Homo sapiens: one gene and its partners. The protein of the gene in region 4 purifies or fractionates together with the protein of the main gene of each other region. This does not show direct contact. Each region holds a gene or a part of one and is shown on either strand. Other genes may lie near its edges.

What was found.
Region 1: the proteins of PRP4K (region 4) and NUDT21 purify together in Homo sapiens (affinity purification with mass spectrometry; 2 studies listed by BioGRID and IntAct, with this or other methods). This does not show direct contact.
Region 2: the proteins of PRP4K (region 4) and ZC3H18 purify together in Homo sapiens (co-immunoprecipitation; 5 studies listed by BioGRID and IntAct, with this or other methods). This does not show direct contact.
Region 3: the proteins of PRP4K (region 4) and PRPF6 purify together in Homo sapiens (affinity purification with mass spectrometry; 3 studies listed by BioGRID and IntAct, with this or other methods). This does not show direct contact.

The regions. Positions count from the first base shown.
Region 1 is NC_000016.10:56,434,333-56,441,332, forward strand, and holds part of NUDT21 (cleavage and polyadenylation specificity factor subunit 5), read right to left. Parts: intron 5,415-7,000; coding exon 5,325-5,414; intron 498-5,324; coding exon 422-497; intron 114-421; coding exon 1-113. UniProt on the Homo sapiens protein: Component of the cleavage factor Im (CFIm) complex that functions as an activator of the pre-mRNA 3'-end cleavage and polyadenylation processing required for the maturation of pre-mRNA into functional mRNAs.
Region 2 is NC_000016.10:88,629,379-88,632,491, reverse strand, and holds the end of ZC3H18 (zinc finger CCCH domain-containing protein 18), read right to left. Parts: intron 2,008-3,113; coding exon 1,911-2,007; intron 1,392-1,910; coding exon 1,193-1,391; 3' UTR 528-1,192; downstream 1-527.
Region 3 is NC_000020.11:63,991,129-63,998,179, forward strand, and holds part of PRPF6 (pre-mRNA-processing factor 6), read left to right. Parts: intron 1-2,278; coding exon 2,279-2,357; intron 2,358-3,787; coding exon 3,788-3,964; intron 3,965-4,198; coding exon 4,199-4,354; intron 4,355-7,051. UniProt on the Homo sapiens protein: Involved in pre-mRNA splicing as component of the U4/U6-U5 tri-snRNP complex, one of the building blocks of the spliceosome.
Region 4 is NC_000006.12:4,017,367-4,024,344, forward strand, and holds the start of PRP4K (serine/threonine-protein kinase PRP4 homolog), read left to right. Parts: upstream 1-3,933; 5' UTR 3,934-4,059; coding exon 4,060-4,100; intron 4,101-6,978. UniProt on the Homo sapiens protein: Serine/threonine kinase involved in spliceosomal assembly as well as mitosis and signaling regulation. Connects chromatin mediated regulation of transcription and pre-mRNA splicing.

The DNA of each region.
Region 1 (7,000 bases), on a different chromosome or scaffold from region 4:
GCTCAACAGCTGAGGGAGACTAGAAATGATGGGTCCATATCCTGGTGCATTGTCATACAATTCAAACAATGGTGCAGCTACCAGCTTGTAATTTTTAGGGACTGCAAACAAGGCTAAAATAAAACAGAATTCATTATTATAAGTTATTATATAATCACTGCTTCCATTTCATTTTTAAATTACCAATTTTACATTTAATAAAAAGTGTAAGAAAAAAGATAATTCTCATTAATACATTTTGGTTGTGTCTTTCAAGGTAGATTTCCTAGCCACAGATTTGAAACTAAAAGCATGGTATACATCTTTAGTTTTACAACAAACCCAAAAGTTCAAGGAACTTTGAGAAAACACAAATAGAGGTATCCTTGAAATTATTCTACAGAATTTTTAGATGGCTACCTTTGAAAACAAAATAACTTACCTTTTTCTTGAAGCTGAACCAGAAACAACTTCTTATGTTCCTTAGGCTTTGTAATATGTGCAGGAATATATGGATACTGAAATTACAAATGAATACAACTTTAATATGTATTCCATGGCTTCATTTCTTTACATGTTTACTCCCCAGTATAGTATAAACTGTTGGGAGAAGCATACTACTTTCTGTCCTCTTTACCAGGACTTATCTAACAGATACACTAGTAAATAAATGCTTTAATGCATATAAAATAACAAGCAGTAAACCAGTCAACCATTCGAGATAAAATATGTAGTCACAGGATTTATAGCTTGAGATACTTAAAACATAATGAAGTCCGATTTTAATTAGTATCTTTAATAAAAGCTTTTTTTTGTTTGTTTGTTTTTTAAGACAGAGTTTTGCTCTTGTTGCCTAGGCTGGAGTGCAATGGCGCAATCTCGGCTCACCACAACCTCTGCCTCCCAGGTTCAAGTGATTCTCCTGCCTCAGCCTCCTGAGTAGCTGAGATTACAGGCATGCGCCACCATGCCTGGCTAATTTTGTATTTTTAGTAGAGGCAGGGTTTCTCCAGGCTAGTCTTGAACTCCCGACCTCAGGTGATCCACCTGCTCTGGCCTCCCAAAGTGCTGGGATTACAGGCATCAGCCACCATGCCCAGCCTAAAAGCTGGTTTTTTAAAAATATATATATAGGCTGGGCACAGTGGCTCACGCCTGTAATCGCAGCACTTTGGGAGGCCAAGGCAGGCGGATCATGAGGTCAGGAGATCAAGACCATCCTGGCTAGCACAGTGAAATCCCGTCTCTACTAAAAATACAAAAAATTAGCCAGGCGTGGTGGCGGGCGCCTGTAGTCCCAGCTACTCGGGAGGCTGAGGCAGGAGAATGGCGTGAACCTGGGAGGCAGAGCTTGCAGTGAGCCGAGACTATGCCACTGCACTCCAGCCTGGGCAACAGAGTGAGACTCTGTCTCCCAAAAAAAAAAAAAAATTATATATATATATATATATATATATATATATATATATATATGATCAGTAAGTTAAACAGTCTAGAATCCTGTTGTAGACCTGTTTACATTAAAAATTCAAATATAAGCTGTGAGGCATTTGACAAGATGCTTCTTGCTCCTCCTTCCAGCCCCAACCTCAAACCTCCCCGTATGCCAAGGTGCATGCTTCAGGAATACCAGAAGAGCAGTCTAAGTGAAGTTTTGCCAGATGGGCAAAGCCAAATTACTCGAGGAAACAAATATAAAAATATATATATAATATATATGTATATTTTAGAGAATTTAAAGGGATGAAGAGAATTAGAGAGGGAAGTTGCTACCCGGGAAGGAAAAATTCTGACACAGAACAAAAAAAAAGTCTAAGGGTTATACAATTCTTGTATAAATCTCTCCACAATACATTCAGAAATCTACTTTTGCTGTTGGAGTTGTATCTGAGAGCTGGGGAATTTAAAATTGCTGAAAACAGATATAAGGGGAAAGTGAGATAAAAGCAGAAGCTGCCAAAAGGAGGTATTAGCATCATCCTCAATTTACACAGAATCACATGCTAAGAGAGGCTAAGTATCTTTCCCAAGATTACTCAGCCAAGTTGTGAAGCCAAGATTTAACTGTATCTATTCAACTCTTATCTAATTATAAAAGCCTATGTTATTTCCCACTGTGTTACTCATTGGCACCTAACCAGTATTCCAGTTAGAATAATTATATATCAGAGCCATCCCTAGGGTACAATGAATTGAGGCAATTGTCCCAGGCTTTGGAGGTTCCTTAAACTGTCATGAAAACCAGATACATTAACAGTCACAGAGAAAGTGGCCTGAATAGCACAAGCTAAGAGATCTGTGGATCACATACAATAAAAGTTCCCAAACCATGATCAAACAAAATGAGTAGCATTTCCCCAAATTTCTTCTGCTCAAGGCTACATGTTCCTATTTTTTTAAGCCTTTCTTCTCTGGTCTTAATGTTTAAGTTGACTGTACTTTATACAAAAAGACTGAGATAGGAAGATGATATGCTCCTTTTCCACTGACATCTAACTAATACTCTAGGCTTCCTAAATAAATCAATACACTTACCTTATGTCAAATACCACCAGGGCCAACTCTAGGCCTTACTGAATGAAGAGAACTGTCCTAGGACAGTGGTAGGGGAGATGAGTGAAGATATTCAGAAAAGTTATCTGGAAAACCACTGGGGTCACTACTAAGCATTTTCCAATTAGATCAAGGCATGTTCAGGAAGCCAAAAAAAAGTTTAGAATAACTGTACTATGTATCTTTGAACAAGTAACTTCACTGTTTCCATATGAAATTGTTCTTCCTTAAAGCCAAGATGTGTTCCTGGCAATTCTTAGGTAGTGAACACCAGCATCAGCTTCCACAGCCCCTATCTTCTTGTCCCTCTGCCATACAAGGGAGTCAGAAGCAAGAGAAAAGAACGATCTTTTGCTTGGTTGATATTTTGTGCAATGCTTGACCTGAAACATCTTGTCATGTAAAGGAGCTATAAAGTCATAGGGCTTTTTAATTTGCCTAAAGAATTCAGGATCCAACTTTAAGAAGTTCCACCATTAGCAAAAATAGGAATATTTGAGCATCAGTAACATCATCACTCATTATCATGGATTAAAATATTTCAAATTATTTAAATCCAAAAGGTCATACTGACACTTTAAAGGTCACTGAAACATGCTTTTTGTGTGTGTGTGCCCCACATTACGCTACCTCTGATTTCGGGGCAGCTATGTTTGAAAAGTATCAGAGGGTTCCCTGTTTGCTGCCACTGTCTCAACAAGCACTCAAGACTCAACATGGAAATGCAAGGGAGTTCATGCAACCCTTATCCAATGGGGTATAGGAGTCCCTACATGGTTCCTGGTCCTTAACAGAACAAATCCAGTTGCCCACAGGTGTAAAAAGATCAATAACATGCCCTGTCTTACTTCTGCTGCTTCTGGTCTCTCTCTCCCCTGTATTCTGCTGCTTCCTGGAATCACCTCTCAAACTGCCTGTACCCAAGTCTTGGTCTTACCCTCTCTTTTGAATAAAGTCAAGTCTTTAGAGGATGCTAAGGAATTAAGTCATTCTTCTGAAAAATGTTAAGTAAAGGAATAGCAGCATATTTTTTTTTTCTACACAAACCACACACTTCAGTAATACATAAGTTTCTTTTTATATGAGGATCACAACCCTTATGAATTCATAGACCAGGAAATGATCATCAATGAGCTGCTAACATTACAACAAGAAACAACCAAATATTTTTAAATTCCTGATGGAAGTACACTATACCAATTGTGATAGACTGCCTTAAGATGACCCCCAATGATTCCTGTCTCCTGGTATTCACTGCTTTGTGTAGTCCCTCCTATAGCGTACCAGGGTTGGCTTGTGTGACCAATAGCACACAGCAGAAGTGATGGTATGCCACTGCCAAGATTAGGTTATCACAGACTGAGGCTTCCTACTTGGGCACTCCTCTAGCACTCTGTCTCTCACTATCTCTTGGATCACACAGCCTTGGGTAAGCCAGCTGCCTGAGAGTTGTCCTTTTAGAGATGTTCTCATGGCAAGGAACTGAGGGAGACCTTGAGACAACAGCCAGCAACACCTGAAGCAAAGCTTTAGTCTAACAGCCCAGATGAAACTAAGAAGTTTGCTAACACACACACGTGTAAGCTCGGGATCAGATACTTTAACCCCAGTTCCACCTTATGATGCAGTCCCAGCTGACAACTTGACTGTAACTTCATGACAGAGCCTAAGCCAGAACCACCCTAAGCAACTCCCAGAGGCCTAAAGGCTGCTAAATTTTGAGGTAATTTGTTATGCAGGTATAGATTATATACCGCCTATGACAAGCCTTGTTACCCCTCCCCAAATTAACTGAGCCTGAATACAATTTCTAGATCTAACTATCAATTTGCAAGACACACAGGGGAAACAGCTACATATTCAACAACAACAGGGGAATGCAATCGAAATGGAAACATTAGCCTGTTTTCATTAACAAATAAAACACAAGGAAAAAAAAAAGGTGCCAAGTGTGTAAAAGAGACTTTAGAGACTATCCTAATCCAAACAAATTATAAAAAGAAAATAGAAATAATCAGGATACGCGAACAGTGACTATATATTTGACAATAATATGGAATTGTTTATTTTTAGTATGATAATAACAGTACTATAGTTATCTTTTTAAAGAGATCCTTATTTTTATGATTCACACTGAAATATTTACAATTGAAATGAATAGCTAGGATACACTTCAAAATAATCCAAGATGAGGGTAGGAGAATGAAGCGGTGGAATGAGGGGTTGTGATGTGCTAACTGTTAAAGGCAGACGACGGGTAGCGCAATTCATTCACTTTTACCATTCTCTCTTCTTTTGTATTTGTTCTATTTATTTATTTATTTTTTGAGAAGGAGTCTCACTGTTGTCCAGGCTGGAGTGCAATGGCACAATCTCGGTTCACTGCAACTTCTGCCTCCCAGGTTCAAGCAATTCTCCTGCCTCAGCCTCCGGAGTAGCTGGGATTACAGGCTTGTACCATCAAACCCAGCTGATTTTTACATTTTTTAGTAGAGACGAGCTTTCACCATGTTGGCCAGGCTGGTCTCAAACTCCTGACCTCAACAGGTGATCCACCCGCCTCGGCCTCCTGAAGTGCTGGGATTACAGGCATGAGCCACCTCGCCCGGCCTTGTATTTGTTTTACATTTTCCTTTAAAATAAGAAGTGCTTGGCTTAATTTTGTAATTTAAATTAAGGAGGGAAGAAAAGAAAATTTCAAGTCAAATTCTACTTTAATCTTTTTTAAAGTGGCTAGAATTAAACGAGCTTTCTGCTTCCAAAATGCCCAGCAAATGTAACTGAACACTGACCTGAGGAGGTTCAAAATTTGGTCTCCACCAGTTACCAATGCAATCGTCAATGACCCAGTCTTGCAAAACTCCATCCTGACGACCCAGTATCTGTCAAAAAGAAATAAGCCAGTAAACAACTAAATATATGTACTCACAAATCCCCTTCTTCAGTGAACAGAAAATTCTTAGCAGTGCTCCTAATTGAAACATAGGGATAATATGCCTTCCATACAGATTTTCTATGATTTGTTAATATAGATGTCACTCTGCCCAAGACATACAATATTAGTTCAAAACTGGCAAGCTAGTATCAACATAAAAATTGTGTTCAAAATTCAGCTTTCATTTTTATTAATTTGTATAGCAGAACACTAAACTTATTTTAACCAAAGTCATACTCTACATATTTTAAGTGGCCAAAAATAGTTCTACAATGTTCATGGTGAGAAACTGCAGTTCTCTGTCCTGCTTCACCCATTCCCACTGGCTGTAACTTTCAACTCTTGGTTGTTTTTCCCCTCATGTTTTCTTCTATTTTTAAAAGCATTCTTCTTGGTCTTAAATAAACGGTTTATTTTAGGATAGTTTTAGATTTACAGAAAACTTGCAAAACTTGTTCAGAGACTTCTCATATACCCCACACAGTTTCCCCGACTGTTAACATCTCACACTAGTAAAGCACATTTGTCAAACTAATCAACCAATACCAAGACAAGATTATTAACTGAAGTCCATATATTATTCAGATATCCATAGTCTTTAACCTAATGTCCTTTTTCATTTTTCAGTCCCAGGATCCCATCTAAGATACCATATTACACTTAATCTTCATTTCTTCCGAGGTTCCTCTACATTGTGACAGCTTTTCATACCTTCCTTGTGTTTGATGATCTTGATAGCTTTGAGGAATACTGGTCAAGTATTTTGTAAAACATCCCTCAATTAAATTGAAGTTATGAGCTTTTGGGAAGAAAACTACAGAGGTAAAAGGGCCATTCTCATCACGTCATATCAAAGGTACATGCTATATCAATATGGCTTATCACTAATGGGCTGAGGTACTGTTTATCACGTTTCTTCAATGTAAAGTCATATTTTTCAAAAAAAAAATTTTTTTTTGAGACGGAGTTTTGCTCATTGCCCAGGCTGGAGTGCAATGGCGCAATATCGGCTCACTGCAACCTCCACCTCCCAGGTTCAAGTGATTCTCCTGTCTCAGCCTCCGGAGTAGGTGGGATTACAGGCACATGCTACCATGCCCAGCTAATTTTTTGTCTTTTTAGTAGAGATGGGGTTTCACCCTGTTGGTCAGGCTGGTCTCGAACTCCTGACCTCAGATGATCTGCCCACCTCACTCTCCCAAAGTGCTGGGCTTACAGGCATGAGCCACTGCACCGGGCCTCAAAACTACATTTTTTAAGAGATAGGGTCTTGCTCTGTCACTCAGGCTGGAGCACAGCGACGCAATCATGGCTCACTACAACTCCTGGCCTCAAGCAATCTTCCGGCCTCAGCCCCACAAAGCACTGGGATTACAGGTGTGAGCCACCATGCCCAGCCAAAATATTCTTTTATGACAGTTTCTTGATTTTCATTTTATTTTATTTTATTTTTTTGAGACAGAGTCTCGCTCTGTTGCCCAGGCTGGAGTGCAGTGCCGCAATCTTGGCTCACTGCAACCTCCACCACCCAGG
Region 2 (3,113 bases), on a different chromosome or scaffold from region 4:
GGCCCTGGAGCGTGCACCTGGGAGGCCGCTGCCCAGGCGCAGGCCTGTGGCTTTCAAGGTGGAAAGCAGGGAGCAGCAGCGGTGGGTCCTGGGGGGCTCTGCCGGTGGCCCCTGCTGTGGAACGTGGCATCACACGCGGGGCCTGGCTCAGCAGGTCTGGGGCCTGCACACGGAGCCGGTGGTGGTCACTGCAGTGGTGGCAGCTGGGCTTGGGGCTGGGAGTCAGCCCTGGACCTCTTCCCCTCCAGCAGCTCCACGGCCCCTGCAGGGAAAGTACCTCCACCTCACGGACCAAGGAAGCCCCAACCCAGCCCCACGAATGGGGAAACTGAGGCGCAATGCTCTCCTGGGCTGGGTCTGAAGGCAGGAGCTGCTCCACAGCCGGTCCTCCCGGGGGGAGTGAGTGCACAGCCACACCCTCGCCCCCCAGCGGCTCCCGAGTGCTGGGCCGAGTGCAGTGCACGACACAGAGGCAGCCCCGGCTGCGCATGGGCAGAGGGCGCACACACCACGAGGGCAAGGACAGCTGCTTATCAAAATATTTTATTTTAGGAGACCCCTCAAAAAAAGACCCACCACATTAGACAGACGCCCCAACAACACCCTTGGCCTTTTTTTGGTCTTTTCTGTATTTTTTCCTTTTTAAATCAACTAAAACAATTTGATGCTTAAAATAAAAGACAGGAAATATTTCCTGATGAGACTTTAGTCGAGAATATAGATATATTTCTGATCCGGGGGCGGGTGATCAGGGGCGGGGGAGGAGAAGGATGTGCCACCAGTGGTTCGCGAGGTTCCGTTTCTCAGCTCAGGAGGGAGCCTGGCTGCCTGGACCCGGGCTAGGGACCCAGAGCTGGGGCTCCACAGGCCTGACCAGGGCCAGGGAAGAAGACGGAGGAGGAGGAAGAGAAGGCGGGGCTGGCGGCTGGGGCTTGTAATTTACATGAGAACCGTGCTGGTCACTAGCGCTGTCTGTGTCTGTCTGTCCTGCGGGACTTCTGCTCTGGGGAGGGAGGCTGGGATTCAGCGTCGTTGTCATTTCCTGTGTGGCTTCTTTTCCAGCTGAGAAACTTTTTTTTCTTTTTTACTTTTTAAAAAGAATCACAGCCAAAATAAGACATTAACTGCAAAATCCAAAATGGCTGCGCTTACCCTATGTATAAAAATGCGTCCAGTCCGGTCGGGGCACGGCCTATGCTTTCCCGGGGATCTTGGCCCGCTTGCGTGCAATAGCATCCTCCACGGCCTTCAGCTGTTTCAGCAGCTCCTCCCGCCGAGACAGCGTGCTGGCCTTCCCTGATTTGGTGCTGGCGGCGCCGGGATCCGAGGCTTTGCCGGGCACGCTCGTGACCTTGCTGGAGCTCTTGGACTGGGGTGACAGCTGGCGCTTCCTACAAGGGGGTGGGGAAGACCTTGAGCCCCCAGAAGCCACGTCTGCAGGTGGAAGGGGTGACCTCCCCGTAGGGGCGCTTCCACTGTGTCCTCAGCGGCCACCAGGACAGGCAAGGGGCTCCCTGGATGGCCAGGCTCCCACTGCCACAAGCAGGCCTGGTCCTAGCCACTGGCTCCCGGGCTTTGTGGAGCAGACTGGGAGGGTCCTGGGCTGGCCCCGCACAACCTCCTGTTATTCTTCCCACCTCTGTGCCCAGGGATCTTTTGCCCAAGGGCATGCGGAGCAGAGGGCACCCTCCAGCCTCAACCAGGGCAGGAGCGTGTGTGTGTGTGTGGGGGGGGGTGGGGGGTGGGGCTGCAATTCGCTGTCCATGCCCCTCACCCCGTCAGACCAGCAGGAGCTGTAGTGACGCCTCCAGCCTGGCCCAGTGCTAGCCCTGCTGCTGCTGGCCTCCCTGGGGAAGCGACTGGGGCTGGCCCCCTCGGTGTGCCCAGGGCACATGCTGGGTGGGACTCACCTGTCAGCCGGGGCTGCAGGGGCTTTGGAGTTCTGGCCTCTCTGCCGCTCTGGCTTCGGGGAGCCCAGTCTCCCACCTGACTTCCGGTCCCGAGAACCTGGGTGATAGGTACAGAGTGAGACCACCCTCCTGATGTACAGGGAATGGCTGTGTGGGTGGCCTCACCGATGCCAGGGACTCACTTCTAAAGCCTGAGGCTGCTTAGTTCACCACCTTCATTTTTATAAAGAAATAAAAAGGGGAGAGCCAAGTAGGAGAAGAGAGATGTGGGCACCAAGGCATCTGGAAATGAGGCTGAGGCCAAACCTGGGCCCCAGGTTCCAGCAAGCAGCCAATATCTCACGCAGAGAGACAAAACTCCTTCCTAGCTTTGAAGAAATTTATCACATGGGTCTTCAAATACGGAACAACAAGAAAGACATGGCAGTAAAGAAATACAAGCAAAGCCGAGAGACTAGGAGTGTTTCACTCTGGCAATGTTAGGAGGGAGGCGCGGCAACCGAGGGGGGGGCCACTGCCCAGCGCAGGCCCAAGGCTGGTGCGAGAACAAAGGTCCGCAGGACCCCAGAGGCCCTGGTTCCAACCCCAGGCAAGGGCAGCAAGGCTGTTCCAGACCAGCCACACAGGGCACAGGCCCTGGGCTTAGGGACAAAGGTGAGCAGCTTCCTCTTCCTGTGTCCGACAAACCCAGAGAACTGCTTGGGAAGGGGTCTGGAAGCCCCCTGCCTGTTCTCTGTGTCTGGGAGTGTCTGTGCGGGTGGCCAGGCCCCCTTGTCCTCTATCTGGTTTGAGCTCCACCCATCAAAGCCAGCCAGGACAATCTCCCTGTCTTTCCATCTGGGCCCCAGCTCTTGGGGTGTGGTCAGCATGGCTGGGGGTCCCCGAGGCCCTTTCAGGTCTGTGTGGTTCAACAGTAATATAGACACTATCTGCCTCGTCACTCAGTCCGCAGGAGCCTGGGAGGATCTCCAGAAGGCACGAGGCATGTGGGTCCAGCCGTCTTCCGTCAGCCAGACTGAAGAGATTTGCAAAAATGGAAAAACCAATGCCATTCCTGCTCATTTGTTTTGGAAAATATATTTTGCAAAAATGGCACATGTGTAAAAAAAAATACAGTTGCTCTTGTTGCCCAAGCTGCAGTGCAATGGTGCAATCTCAGCTCACTGCAACCTCTGCCTCCCAGGTTCAAGCGATTCTCCTGCC
Region 3 (7,051 bases), on a different chromosome or scaffold from region 4:
TTAAAAAACATCAGGCTGGGTGCAGTGGCTTACATGTGTAATCCTAGTACCTTGGGAGGCCAAGGCAGGAGGACCACTTGAGTCTAGGAGTTCGAGACCAGCCTGGGCAACATGGTGAAACCCTGTCTCTACAAAAACAAAATTAAAATTAGCCAGTTGCACATGCCCGTAGTTCCAGCTACATTCCCAAGGCTGAGGCAGGAGCATCGCTTGAGCCTAGGAATTAGAGGCTACAGTGAGCTATGCTTATGCCACTGTGCTCCAGCCTGGGCAACAGACCAAGGCCGTGTCTCTAAAACAAAAACAAAACAAAAAACAGCAGGTGACACGGACCCATGAAGAAAGCCATTAAATTAAATGTTTTTAAAAAGTAGTGTACTTGGCCGAGCACGGTGGCTCACACCTATAATCCCAGCACTTTGGGAGGCCGAGGCGGGCAGATCATGAGGTCAGGAGATCGAGACCATCCTGGCCAACATGGTGAAACCCCGTCTCTACTAACAATACAAAAATTAGCTGGGTGTGGTGGTGCATGCCTGTAATCCCAGCTACTCAGGAGGCTGAGGCACGAGAATCACTTAAACCCAGGAGGCGGAGGTTGCAGTGAGCTGAGATCGCACCACTGCATTCCAGCCTGGTGACAGAGTGAGACTGTCTCAAAGAAAAAAAAAAAAGTAGTGTACTTATTAAAACTTTTTATTCTGAAAACTGTCGTAATACAAACAAGTAGGAAGAACAGTACTGTGAATACCATATCCTCACATGTAGTCTCAACACCGAAGTGCAATTACATGGGTTATGTTCTGGCACATAGAGCTGTGCAGCTGAGCTGAGTTGGTTAGAGGTGAACTATTTACTTGGAAGAGAAGGAAGCAAGGAAGGAAAGGTGGGATGAGTTCAGTAGAGTGTTTGGAGTGTTTGGTGGTAACTAGGATAGTTACTGTTTTTCCTTGTAGGTGTTTTTTTGTTTTGTTTTGTTTTGTTTTGTTTTGCGACAAGGTCTCGCTCTGTCGCCCAGGCTAGATTGGCTCACTGCAACCTCCACTTCCTGGATTCAGATGATTCTCCTGCCTCAGTCTCCCAGGTAGCTGGGGATTACAGGTGCCCACCACCATGCCCAGCTAATTTTTATTTTTATTTTTATTTTTTTGAGACGAAGTTTCACTCTTGTCACCCAGGCTGGAGTGCAATGGCATGATCTTGGCTCCCTGCAACTTCCACCTCCCAGGTTCAAGCAATTCTCCTACCTCAGCCTCCTGAGTAGCTGGGATAACAGGCATGCGCCACCACGCCTGGCTAATTTTCATATTTTTAGTATAGATGGGGTTTTACCACATTGGCCAGGCTTGAACTCCTGACCTCAGGTGATCTGCCCACCTCGGCCTCCCAAAGCGTTGGGATTACAGGTGTAAGCCACCACGCCTGGCCTTCTTAGGTGTTTATGGGATGGTCCTACCTTTGGGATTTTGTGAATTTTCAAGCAGTAAATATACACATGTCCAAATGGAGGTATTTAGATCAAAGTAAGATCTTTTTTTTTTATTTTAATGAATTTCTACATGTTTTTATTTGGTGGATAATTGAATTAGTAGACTTACGAATGTATTTATATTTATTTATTTAGAGGCAGAGTCTCTCTGTGTTGCCCAGGCTGGAGTGCAGTGGTGCGATCTTGGCTCACTGCACCCTCTGCCTCCTGGGTTCAAATGATTCTGCCTCAGCCTCCCAAGTAGCTGTGATTACAGGTGTGTGCTACCATGCCCAGCTAAGAATGTATTCATAGTTACCTTAAAATATATTTGATTTGGGCTGGGTGCGGTGGCTCACACCTGTAATCCCAGCACTTTGGGAGGCCAAGGTGGGTAGATCACAAGGTCAGGAGTTCGAGAACAGCCTGGCCAGGATGGTGAAACCCCGTCTCTACTAAAAACACAAAAATTAGCTGGGAGTGGTGGCGAGCACCTGTAATCCCAGCTACTTGGGAGGCTGAGGCAGGAAAATCACTTAAACCCAGGAGGTGGAGGTTGCAGTGAGCTGAGATTGCGCCACTGCACTTTAGCCTGGGTGACAGAGCAAGACTCCATCTCAAAAAAAAAAATGTGTGTGTGTGTGTGTGTGTGTGTGTGTGTGTGTGTATATGTATATATATATATATATATTTGATTTAGCTACTAAGAGTATGGAATTGTTCTTTTTGGTGATTTAATTGAGATGGATAATAAATTTGCTTCAGAACAGACATGCAGTGTTTCTGATGTGTGCATGTTTTATTTCCTAGGGAGCAAAGGGAGAAAGAAGAAATAGAGAAATATCGTATGGAACGCCCCAAAATCCAACAGCAGTTCTCAGACCTCAAGGTGAGCCGATGAAGCGGTGAATGGTGTGCGGTTTCTAACGCTCTCACCCTAACCCGCAGAGACTCAGACTGCTCTTACGTGGAATTTATGAGACTTTACGTTTTTAATTTAGGGGGTCATTGCTTAGAAGAAGAAAGTGTTTGCTTCAGTATGTTTAATTATATGTGTGTAAAAAAAAACCCTTCCCCTACTGTAAAAGGTAGGACAAATGAACTTATTTTCTTTGTAATTTTGACTCCATTTATACCTAAGATTTTCTTTTTTCTTTTTTCTTTTTTTTTTTGGAGGCAGTCTGGCTCTGTTGCCCTGGCTGGAGTGCAGTGGCGTGGTCTCAGCTCACTGCAACCTTCACCTCCTAGGTTCAAGCAATTCTTGTGCCTCAGCCTCCTAAGTAGCTGGGATTACAGGTGCCTGCCACCATACCCAGCTAATTTTTGTATTTTTAGTAAAGACAGGATTTCGCCATGTGTACCAGGCTGGTCTCAAACTCCTGAACTCTAGTGATCTGCCCACCTCAGCCTCCCAAAGGGCTGGGATTACAGGCGTGAGCCACCACGTCTGGCCCCATTTATACGTAAGATTTTCTAAACTGTGTCCCCTGGGCTTTGAGAGAATAATTTACATTTTAGTGAAGTTGAACAGATCCAATAAATTGATTTTTCTTTTCTTTTTCTTTTTTTTTTTTTTTTGAGACGGAGTTTGGCTCTTGTTGCCCAGGCTGGAGTGCAATGACGCGATCTCAGCTCACCGCAACCTCCGCCTCCCAGGTTCAAACGATTCTCCTGCCTCAGCCTCCCTAGTAGCTGGGATTACAGGCATGTGCCACCATGCCCGGCTAATTTTGTATTTTTAGTAGAGATGGGGTTTCTCCATGTTGGTCAGGCTGGTCTCGAACTCCCGACCTCAGGTGATCTGCCCGCTTTGGCCTCCCAAAGTGCTGGGATTAACAGGCATGAGCCACCGTGCCCGGCCTAAATTGATTTTTCTAAGTGAAGTAGAAAACTATTTTTGGGGCTGGGTACAGTGGCTCACATCTGTAATCTCAGCACTTTGGGAGGCTGAGGTGGGAGGATCACTTGAGCCCAGGAGTTTGAGACCAGCCTTGGGGAGAACCTGTCTTTACAAAAAATAAAAACTTAGCCAGGCATGGTGGCCCACGCTTGTGGTCCCAGCAACTTGAGAAGCTGAAGTGGGAGGATCACTTGAGCCTGGGAGGTTGAGGCTGCAGTGAGCTGTGATTGTGCCACTGAATCCAGCCTGGGCAACAGAATGAGACCCATCTCAAAACAAAAGTAAAAAACAGTTGCTGCATCCAAATCCCTTCTAAAGCTTGGTGATCTGGAGGCTAGGGGTGAGAGAGGGCATGGTCCTACCTGGGCACATGAAATTCTGTCAGAGAATTAATGTTTTTGGGGGCTGGATATTTCCAGAGGAAGTTGGCAGAAGTCACAGAAGAAGAGTGGCTGAGCATCCCCGAGGTTGGCGATGCCAGAAATAAACGTCAGCGGAACCCACGCTATGAGAAGCTGACCCCTGTTCCTGACAGTTTCTTTGCCAAACATTTACAGACCGGAGAGAACCATACCTCAGTGGATCCCCGACAAACTGTGAGCTTCCAAAAAAGGGCACATGTGGCCCATTTAGTCCTGTTAGATCAGTGGCAGGAATGGTGGGTGGTGTTGGATTCAATGCTTCTGCAGGTCATGGCTATGCTGTGGCCGAGTCTGTCTGCACAGCTGTGCATATGTCAGGCCACTGGGGAAGTATTTCAGAGAGTAAATTTCTTGGGCATGCAGTGCAAACCGTTGTTTTATTCTTGCCTTTCCTCTCTTCCCCTCCAGCAATTTGGAGGTCTTAACACACCCTATCCAGGTGGACTAAACACTCCATACCCAGGTGGAATGACGCCAGGACTGATGACACCTGGCACAGGTGAGCTGGACATGAGGAAGATTGGCCAAGCGAGGAACACTCTGATGGACATGAGGCTGAGCCAGGTGAGTTTGTCACACAGCATTTTCCTGTGGACAGGTTTAGACAGTTTAATTTTGTTTTGTTTTCTTTTTCTCCTTCTTCTTCTTCTCCTTTTTCTTCTCCTCCTTCTCCTCCTCCTCCTTCTTCTCCTTCTCCTTTTTTTTTTTTTGGCTTGATTTTTGCCTGAATAATTCCGCAGATTTTTAAAATTTTGACCCAGAGTCTTGCTGTGTCACTCAGAGGCTGGAGTGCAATGGTGTGATCTTGGCTCACTGCAACCTCCACCTCCTGGGTTCAAGTGATTCTCCTACCTCAGCCTCCTGAGTAGCTGGGATTACAGGTGCCCACCACCACACCCGGCTAATTTTTGTATTTTTTGTAGAGACGGGGTTTTACCATGTTGGCCAGGCTGGTCTTGAACTCCTGACCTCAGGTGATCTGTCTGCCTTGGCCTCCCAAAATGCGGGGATTACAGGTGTGAGCCACTGCACTTGGCCTTTTTTTAAAATATAAAATAATAATTTTTTAAAAAGTGTGTTTTTTTCCTGCCTCTCAGTAAATTGTCTTGTGGCCCTGCATGGAACGTGTACTTTGATCTGGAGACTAGGTGCTCTAGACACCAGTGAAGTACAGAACTCTTTCTGATATGCATATCAGATACCACGAAGGAACATACTACTTTTGGCCTGGCCAACATGGTGAAACCCCGTCTCTACTAAAAATACAGAAATTGGCCAGGTGTGGTGGCGGGCGCCTGTAATCCCAGCTACTTGGGAGGCTAAGGCAGGAGAATTGCTTGAACCCGGGCGTTGGAGGTTGCAGTGAGCCGAGATTGCACCAGTGCACTCCGGCCTGGGCAACAGAGTGAGACTGTCTCAAAATAAAAAACAAAAACAAAAACAAAAAGTGGCACAATCATGGCTGGCTACATACAGCCTTGACCTCCCTGGGCTAAGGCGATCCTTCCACCTCAGCCTGCCAAGTAGCTGAGATTACAGGCATGTGCCACCATACCCAACTAATTTTTGTATTTTTTGTTGAGATGGGGTGTCACTAGGTTGCCCAACCTGGGCTGGAGCTCCTGGGCACAAGTGATCTGTCCGCGCTGGCCTCACAAAGTGCTGGGATTACAGGTGTGAACTACCATGCCCAGCCTGAAATTTGTTTACATAGAAATTGTAAAACTTTTTGGGCCAGGCACTCATGCCTGTAATCCTAGCACTTTGAGAGACCAAGGTAGGAGGATTGCTTGAGGTCAGGAGTTCAAGACCAGCCTGGGCAACATGGTGATGGTGAGACTCTGTCTCTACAAAAACTAAAAGAAATAGCTGGGCCTGGTGGTGCCTGTAGTCCCAGCTGTTCGAGAGGCTGAGGTGGAAGGATTGCTTGAGCTAGGGAGTTTGAGGCTGCCATGAGCTATGATCGCGCCTCTGCACACCAGCCTGGGTTACGGAGTGAGACTGTCTCAATAAATAAATAAAACTGTCACAGTAATTTTTTTGTGGTAAAATATATGTAACACAGAATTTACCATTTTAATCATTCTTGACTGTACATACCTTCACTGACATAATTATGTTCATGTTGTTATACAACCTCATCACCATTCATCTCCAGAACTGTTTTCATCTTCCCAAATTGAAACTCCGTACCTGTTAAACATTGAGTCCCCGTGCGCTTTCTCCCCAGCCCCTGGCATCCACCGTTCTCTCTGTTTCTATAAATGTCACTACTCTCTGGATCTTATATGACTGGAATCATACAGTATTTACCTTACTGTGACAGGCTTATTTCAATTAGCTCATGGTGCAGCATGCGTCAGCATGTTCTTTTTTTTTTTTTTTTTTTTGAGACAGAGTCTCTCTCTGTCACCCAGGCTGGAGTTCAATGGCATGGTCTTGGCTCACTGCAGCCTCCGCCTCTCGGGTTCAAATGATTCTCCCACCTGAGCCTCCCAAGTAGCTGGGACTACAGGTGTGCACCACCAAGCCCAGCTAATTTTTTTTTTTTTTTTTGAGACGGAGCCTGGCACCGTCACCCGAGCTGGAGTGCAGTGGTGTGATCTCGGCTCACTGCAACCTCCACCTCCTGGGTTCAGGTGATTCTCCTGCCTCAGCCTCCCGAGTAGCTGGAACTATAGGCGTGTGCCACCATGTCTGGCTAATTTTTGTATTTTTAGTAGAGACGGGGTTTCATCATGTTGGCCAGGATGGTCTTGATCTCCTGACCTCGTGATCCACTCGCCTCAGCCTCCCAGGATGCTGGGATTAGAAGTGTGATTTTTTTGTATTTTTAGTTAGAGATGGGATTTCACCATGTTGGCCAGGCTGGTCTCGAACTCCTGACCTCCAGTGATCCACGTGGCTCGGCCTCCCAAAGTGCTGGGATTACAGGCATGAGCCCCGGCGCCCCGGCCAGCATGTTCTCAGTTTAAGGCAGGATGAGACTTGACTCTTTGGTGTGTGTGGACCGCATTCGCTCATCTATGTAGACCGCATTCGCTGACCTGTTTATTCGCTGACGGACACTTGGACCACTTTCACCTTTTGACTATTGTGAATAATGCTGCTGTGAATACGGGTGTACAGATATTTGTCAGAGACCCTGCTTTCTATTCTTTCTTTTTTAATAAAAATTTTATTTATTTTTTTTTGAGACGGGGTCTTGCTCTGTCACCCAGGCTGGAGGGCAGTGGCGTGATCTCGGCTCACTGCAGCCTC
Region 4 (6,978 bases):
ACCATTATCCCCATGTTACTGTGTAAAATGAGGCTCAAAAAAGTTAAACTCTTTGAAATTGCACAGTAAGTTGTGAAGCCCAGGTCTGCCTGACTTGAATGCTCACGTTCTAAATACTAATCTAGCTACTGCCTCATCACATAGTAGTTACAAGCAACAGTGCAAAGTTGAAATAACCTAGACATACAATAACAAAGGAAAAAGAGTGTAGTTATAAAAATGCTTACTGAAACTAGAATTATGTATGTAAAAATTGGGAGACATGTTACATGAAAGAGCAAACTATCATATTCTACACGTGAGTACAAGAAAATTTAACATTTCATATGGAAAAAAGCCAAAATAAACCAATATATTCAAGTTGGTTCAGTGTGGGTAATGGAACTCTGGGTGATTTTCATTGTTTTGCTTTGTTATCCTTTGGTTTGCACCAAAATTGCTTCAATACTAACAACAAAAACAACAAAAACAAATTACGTTCTCATAAACTTTGTTTTGTAACAAAGGAAAATTCTGCCCAGTGTTCCAAACACCTCAAAGTTCCAAGTCTAGGTCTAAACCAGAGTCGTTAAGTATTCTCTGAAAAGCGATCTACTCTTAATTGACATCTGGCGACTCTACATGGACCAATGGCTTCCTCCGCAGGATGTTATGATCTTTATTTTGTTTGTAGCCTACGGAAGAATGAGCCTATTAAGAGCTTATTGAGATTGATGATTGCACAGTGTAGCTTGAAAGGTCCAAATTTAATCCGTTTCAACGGGAGGAACAAAATTCAAAACTGTTTTCAAAGTATTTCGAGAATGTGTCCCTTATCTGGAAGTAATACTTAAAACGAAGCAAACAAAGACGGTAAGAGAAAGTCACAAATGCAAGCTCGCGCCCGAAGCCAGCCTCGGGCAGGTACACTTTGGTGTGGTGTGGCGGCGGCAGGGCGCCAAGCGCCGTGGTTTTTACGGTCTCGTCAGCAAGCAGGGCCGACCTCCGCTTTATCGGACAGGACCAACGCAGGATCCGGGGCGCGGCGGCGACAGGGCCCCGAGGCAGATGCCCGAGCTAGAACTCTGGCGCCTACTTACTCCTCGGCCGGCCCGGCTGCTCCGAAAAACGACCTCACAGGAATGGCTGCAAGAGCGCCGCCGCCGGCAGGGGCTGAGGAGAACGAGCCTGGGGCTCCGGGCCCAGAGATGAGACGCTCTGGCTGGGAAGCAAGGAGCATCGGCACCGACGGATAGAGGCCGGTGGCCCTCAGGTTGAGCAGGCGGCTTCGGGGCGGGGAGAGAAGGGACCAAGGCCCACCGCAGGCCTCAGATCCTCCCACGCCTCCCCGCTGCTACCCAACGATGACGCAAGTACGCATGCGCCTCCCCAGCTGCCGCTGGGAAGAGCGCGCTCCCCAGGGCCCCGCCCCCTCCAAGGATTTCCGGGGAGGCGGGTTCCACTGCTGACTTACCGGTTTTACTCCTCTGCTCAAAAGGCGCCTGCCCGAGGCCGCTTTCCGTTGCAAAGGTTCCTGAATTTGGGGAGGAAGAGCAGCAAGACTGAAATATTGGGCATACGTTTGTTGCTTCATAAACGTTTGCTGAATGAATAAACTGATACGCCGATGTTTGCTTTAATTGTAACTCCCCCTGCCGCAGTTCCCAGTCTTTGAAAATTACAACAGCAACATAGTTTTGGGCGTGTCCTTGACAAATGTGTTTCATTCCCCAGGTAGTACCGTGCAAGTGAACTTGGTGAGAATTTTTTCAAGGAAATTTTTGCCAGCATCGATTTTTGAAACTTAGTTTTTACCATGCTCTTTAAAAAAATAAACACTTGGTTTGTTCAAATACCAACTTTAGTCACACAATCTGGCTTCAGCACCTATTGTTCGGGCCCCATATATCGTTCTCCACACTTAGGATGCTTCATCTCCACATAAAGCATAACTGCAAAATACACAGGGCAGAAGGAGACCTGGGAGATAATACTATGGTTGCAGAAATTAAGACCAGCCTGAGCTCTCGACAACAAGAAAGAGACACAGCGAAAACAAGGCATTTATTTATAATAGGCTCTTGCAAGCAAGGAAAAATAAGGCATTTTCTGATTCGAACGTAGTGCTCTATTACCCCTACTCAACAAACATTTGAATGCCAAAGAGCTGTGAGGGTGGATGCTTAACAAGCAGATGCTAAGCGAGGTTATATTTTTGTAGGAAGCAGCCTGATAAGAAAAGAGCAGATTTTCGAGTCAGATTTTAGTTCAAAAATCAGCTTTGTACTTGGGAACTCAATCATAAGCAAATTACCTTACCTCTTAGTGTCGGTTTGTTCATGTGTAAAACGTGTTAATAGTACCTGACCCAATCTCTTGCCTTCAAGTATATCACTCTATTTCCAAGATGAGATCTCTCACAGTTCTACTACGTACACCGTTAATTTTAACATTATTTAAAAATAGTTTACTAAGTTTATTTCATTTATTTATTTGAGACGGCGTTTTTGCTTTTGTTGCCCAGGCTGGAGTGCAATGGCGCGATCTCGGCCTCCCGGGTTCAAGCGATTCTCTTGCCTCAGCCTCCCGAGTAGCTGAGACTACAGGCGCCACCACGCCGGCTAATTTTTTGTATTTTTAGCAGAGACGGAGTTTCGCTATGTTGGCCAGGCTGGACTCGAACTCTTGAGTTCAGGCAATCCGCCCGCCTCGGCCTCCCAAAGTGCTAGAGGATTGCAGGCGTGAGCCACCGCGCCCGGCCCTAACATTTCAAAACGTTTGGAATTCAGGCAACAAGAGACATTTTGTAAGAACATTTAAAACCCTTCTCCCCTGGAAATCAAGAGATATGTATGGAGTCTGGAGATTCCGAACTCAATTTTCTAGGACAAAGGCAAACTCAGATGATTACAAGAATGAAAGTGATCGTCACGCTGCTTCCAGGTTCCAAAGTATGGATAATTTTTTTTTTTTTTTTGAGATGGAATCTTGCTCTGTCGCCCAGGCTGGAGTGCAGTGGCGTGATCTCAGTGCAAACTCCGCCTCTCGGGTTCAAGCGATTCTCCTGCCTCAGCCTCCGGAGTAGCTGGGATTATAGGCGAGCGCCACCACGCCCAGCTAATTTTTTGTATTTTTAATAGAGACGGGGTTTCACCATGTTGGCCAGGCTGGTCTCCAAATCCTGGCCTCAGGTGATCCGCCCGCCTCGGCCTCCCAAGGTGCTGGGATTACAGGGGTGAGCCACAGCGCCAGGCGAGAAATATTTTTTTAAAGAGGAATTAAAGAACCTAATTGGTTTTGAGAGTTCTCCAAGAGCCAGTAAATGTTTTCCCCACAATATTCCATTCTACCCCATTACTGTAGAGTCGTTATAGAAGAAAACAAAATCACATAACGCAACTTGGGCCAAAAAACATTACACGTTCCAATTACGGAAATAACGAACTGAATCGTGTCACCCTTGAACTATGTAAAAGTTGAAAAGATGTTCAGTGTTAAATGTAGTAACAGTTCCACATTAAAAGATATTTACGTTCGAGTTTACAGTATTTAAAAATGCCTTTCTACACACTTTCCCGGGAAGTTAATGCCACTTCAGTTGAGCTGTCTAGCGAGATGGTTAAGCATTTACTGTGTCTCTAACACCGACCAGGGGAAAAATCATCAATTCGTTTGCCCGAGTTTAAGAGAATTTTCACCTAACTTCTAATCTCCACAGCCAATCAGTTCTTGGAACCGCACACCCGATGCCGACATCCCTCTCTTGTTGGCTCCCCTCGTTAGCGGGATTCAATAACTAAACGTCCATTTCTAGCATTGACTGAAGAGCTCAAGCTTGACACTCGACCTCAATCCTTAGCAGCACCGCCCACCATGCTCCCGGAAGCTGCGACACTACGCCCTGCGCTAGTCCCGGGACGTGGGGTTTTATATCCGGATTCTTAGCGCGGACTCAGAACCCAGCTCTTCCCTACACGGTCGGCACATGCGCGGCAGCTCTTTTCCTTCTTCCTCCACTTCCCCTACCCTCCACCGTCCGGGAGCCGCCGCCACCGCCGCCGAGGAGTCAGGAAGTTCAAGATGGCCGCCGCGGAGACCCAGTCGCTACGGGAGCAGCCAGAGTAAGTAGTCTCTGTGAGTGGGCCAGAAGCTGGAGCCCGGGGACTGCCGAGTGGGAGCTGCACGGGGTGGCGGGAAAGTTCGGGCCTAACGGCGAGAGTCAAACTTTGCTTTTTCCGGCGCGATTCGTTGTGGGGTGGGAGGCATGGGGAGCAGGCGGCCTTCGAGCTTCCTTCTCCCAGAGGCCGTGGCTGCTGGGGTGAAGGCGGCCGCGGCCTGCCGCGCGTCGTTGCCCCGGGAGGCGTAGGCGCGAGCGGCCTCTACAGGTCCGGTGCGCGTGGCGGCTGCCGCGGCAGTGAGGTCGCGCTTTCCTATGCCTCTTTTGGGGACCCATCTGAGCTCCCTGGCCGCAGCTCTTAGCGGCATCTGTGTTGGGGACACGAGGGTCAGTGGCAGCAGGCGGGCCAAGCCCTAAGTCTTTTCTTCCTCATGCGGTACCCCCAGTCGTCCTTTTACTGGTGTCAGTTTAGGACCTGAAAGCAGAGAGCGGAGGTGCTGGGGTCACACTCTCTGGCCATCCCAGAGCTAGTCTGTGGCTAGCGGGATACTTGATCTCGTCACCTTGTACTCTTTAGTCCAGCAGTCACCCAGTATTGTTTTGTTTTGTTTTGAGTGCCTACCGGCAGCTTTTTTACCAACTTGCAAACTTGAGGCAAAGTAAGATAGAGTCTTTGGTTTTGAGGCCTGGCATTTTTTTTTTTTTTTTTTTTTTGCCTGAGTTTATAACCCTTCTTTAGGAGGACGAGTGGAAGGAGTAGTGGGAATTGCTAGCTACTGCCAAACCACTTTATGTCTATAATTAAGCTAACATTAAGAATCCATGCGGCCAAATGAAAAATGAAAAAAAAAAAAATACGAGTGTATGCTGCAAAGGTTAACCATTGGTTAACTTAAAGCAGTATTTTGCTGTTCATGTCTATGTTAGGAAAACTCAAACAAGAACCTTAACAGAGAGAATGGATTTTACGGCAATGTTCCTATAGCGACCGTTTTTTTTTTTTGTTTTGTTTTTTGTTTTTTTTTGCATCTGCACTGTCTGATCTGTTTCCAGCCATCTTAGAAAGAGGTATAGTCTCCCAGCAACTTGTGACTGAGCGATAGAAGAAATCTTTGCCACCAGACAACCTGACACTTAATTGCTGTGCATCCAGTTTTGGGCTCCTCAATCATCTGCATTACTCAGCTAGGCAGAGAAACGGAATTTTTAATTAAGGGCTTTTCAAAACTGCTGTATTATTTTTACAATTTGACTTAGCAGAGAACAAATGGATTCTGAAGTTTTAAATTAGCTTTAACCTCTTACTGTTTCTCACCAAGTTCATTGTGTGGCACAATTACAGTGTTTATGCCAGTACCGTGCAGATCTCATGCTATGTGGTTACATTTTCTACTAATCTGAAAAGTTCTGTAATATTATGTCCATTTATTTGATTTTAGGGATGTTTCAGATTCATTTCCAGGAGTGGGTCAGCCATAGTTTATTCACATACTGTATTCAAATAATATTAGACTTAATAATTTCAAAAATACATATTTAGGCCTCTGCTGTATGAGTAACAGAGATAATCTTTAATTTCCCTTCCCTTCCCCACAGAGCACTTGGTGTAAATGGAATATTTGGTCTGTATATGTCTCACTTTCAGTAGTTTGAAAGTATTTAACAAAGAAGATAACCATTTGGTATGAAAGCAAACTATGCCTGGTGCTCATAGTGAGTCCCTGAATATAGTGTCTACAACAGTTCTTTAGAGAACACTGAGTAGTTTACAGTTATATAGAATCTATTCAAAACAGAAAATTTAGAAAGAATAAATATAAGAAGCAGCTTTTAAGCTCCCTGAAGGCTTTAATTCTTTTAACAACCCTATGGAGGTAGATACGTTTATTTTCCTTATTTTAGAGATGATGAAACTGAAACACAGAGAAATTAAGTAACTTGCTCAAGGTCACACTCAGTGGCACACCCATTTAAACTCAGGCAGTCTGGTTCTAAAGCCCTGCTGCTAACTATTGTACTGTCTGGCCTCCCACTATACAATGTGGCTTCTTTTTAAATTGCTTGTCAAGTATGAAATTATTTTTGTTTTTTTCCACTGTCCCAGAAAGATACATTTTTTGATGTGACATGTCTAATTTATTGAGAACTAATTTCTCAAACCTGATTTGGCAAAGCAGAGACCAGAGGGAATGTTTTAAGACTAGTTGGTCTTTTGGACCCATTCTGATTTTTATAGCTACATTAATTCTTTTTGTTCATTTTATTTATTTTTGAAACACGAGCTCTTGTCACCCAGACTGGAGTACAGTAACATTATCATGGCTCATTGTAGCCTCAGCCTCAAGTGATCCTCCTACTCCAGCCTCCGGAGTAGCTGGGACCACAGGCATATGACACCATGCCCAGCTAATTTTTTTTTTTTTGAGACGGAGTTTCACTTTCTCTCCAGGCTAGATTGCAGTGGTGCGATCTTGGCTCACTGAAACCTTGGACTCCCTGGTTCAAGCAGTTCTCCTGCCTCAGCCTCCCGAGTAGCTGGGATTACAGGCACGTACCACCACGCCCAGCTAATTTTTGTATTTTTAGTAGAGATGGGGTTTCACCTTGTTGGCCAGGATGGTCCCGATCTCCTGACCTCGTGATCCGCCCACCTCAGACTCCCAAAGTTCTGGGATTACAGGCGTGAGCTACCGTGCCGAGCCATGCCTAGCTAATTTTTAAGTATTTTTGTAGAGGCAGAGTCTTCCCATGTTGCCCAGGCTGTTCTTGAACTACTGGGCTCAAGTGCTGCAGGTACTAGGGAGTCTGAGGCAGGAGGATCATTTGAGCCTAGGAGTTTGAATCTAGCCCAGGCAACATAGTGAGACCCAGTTTCTTAAAAG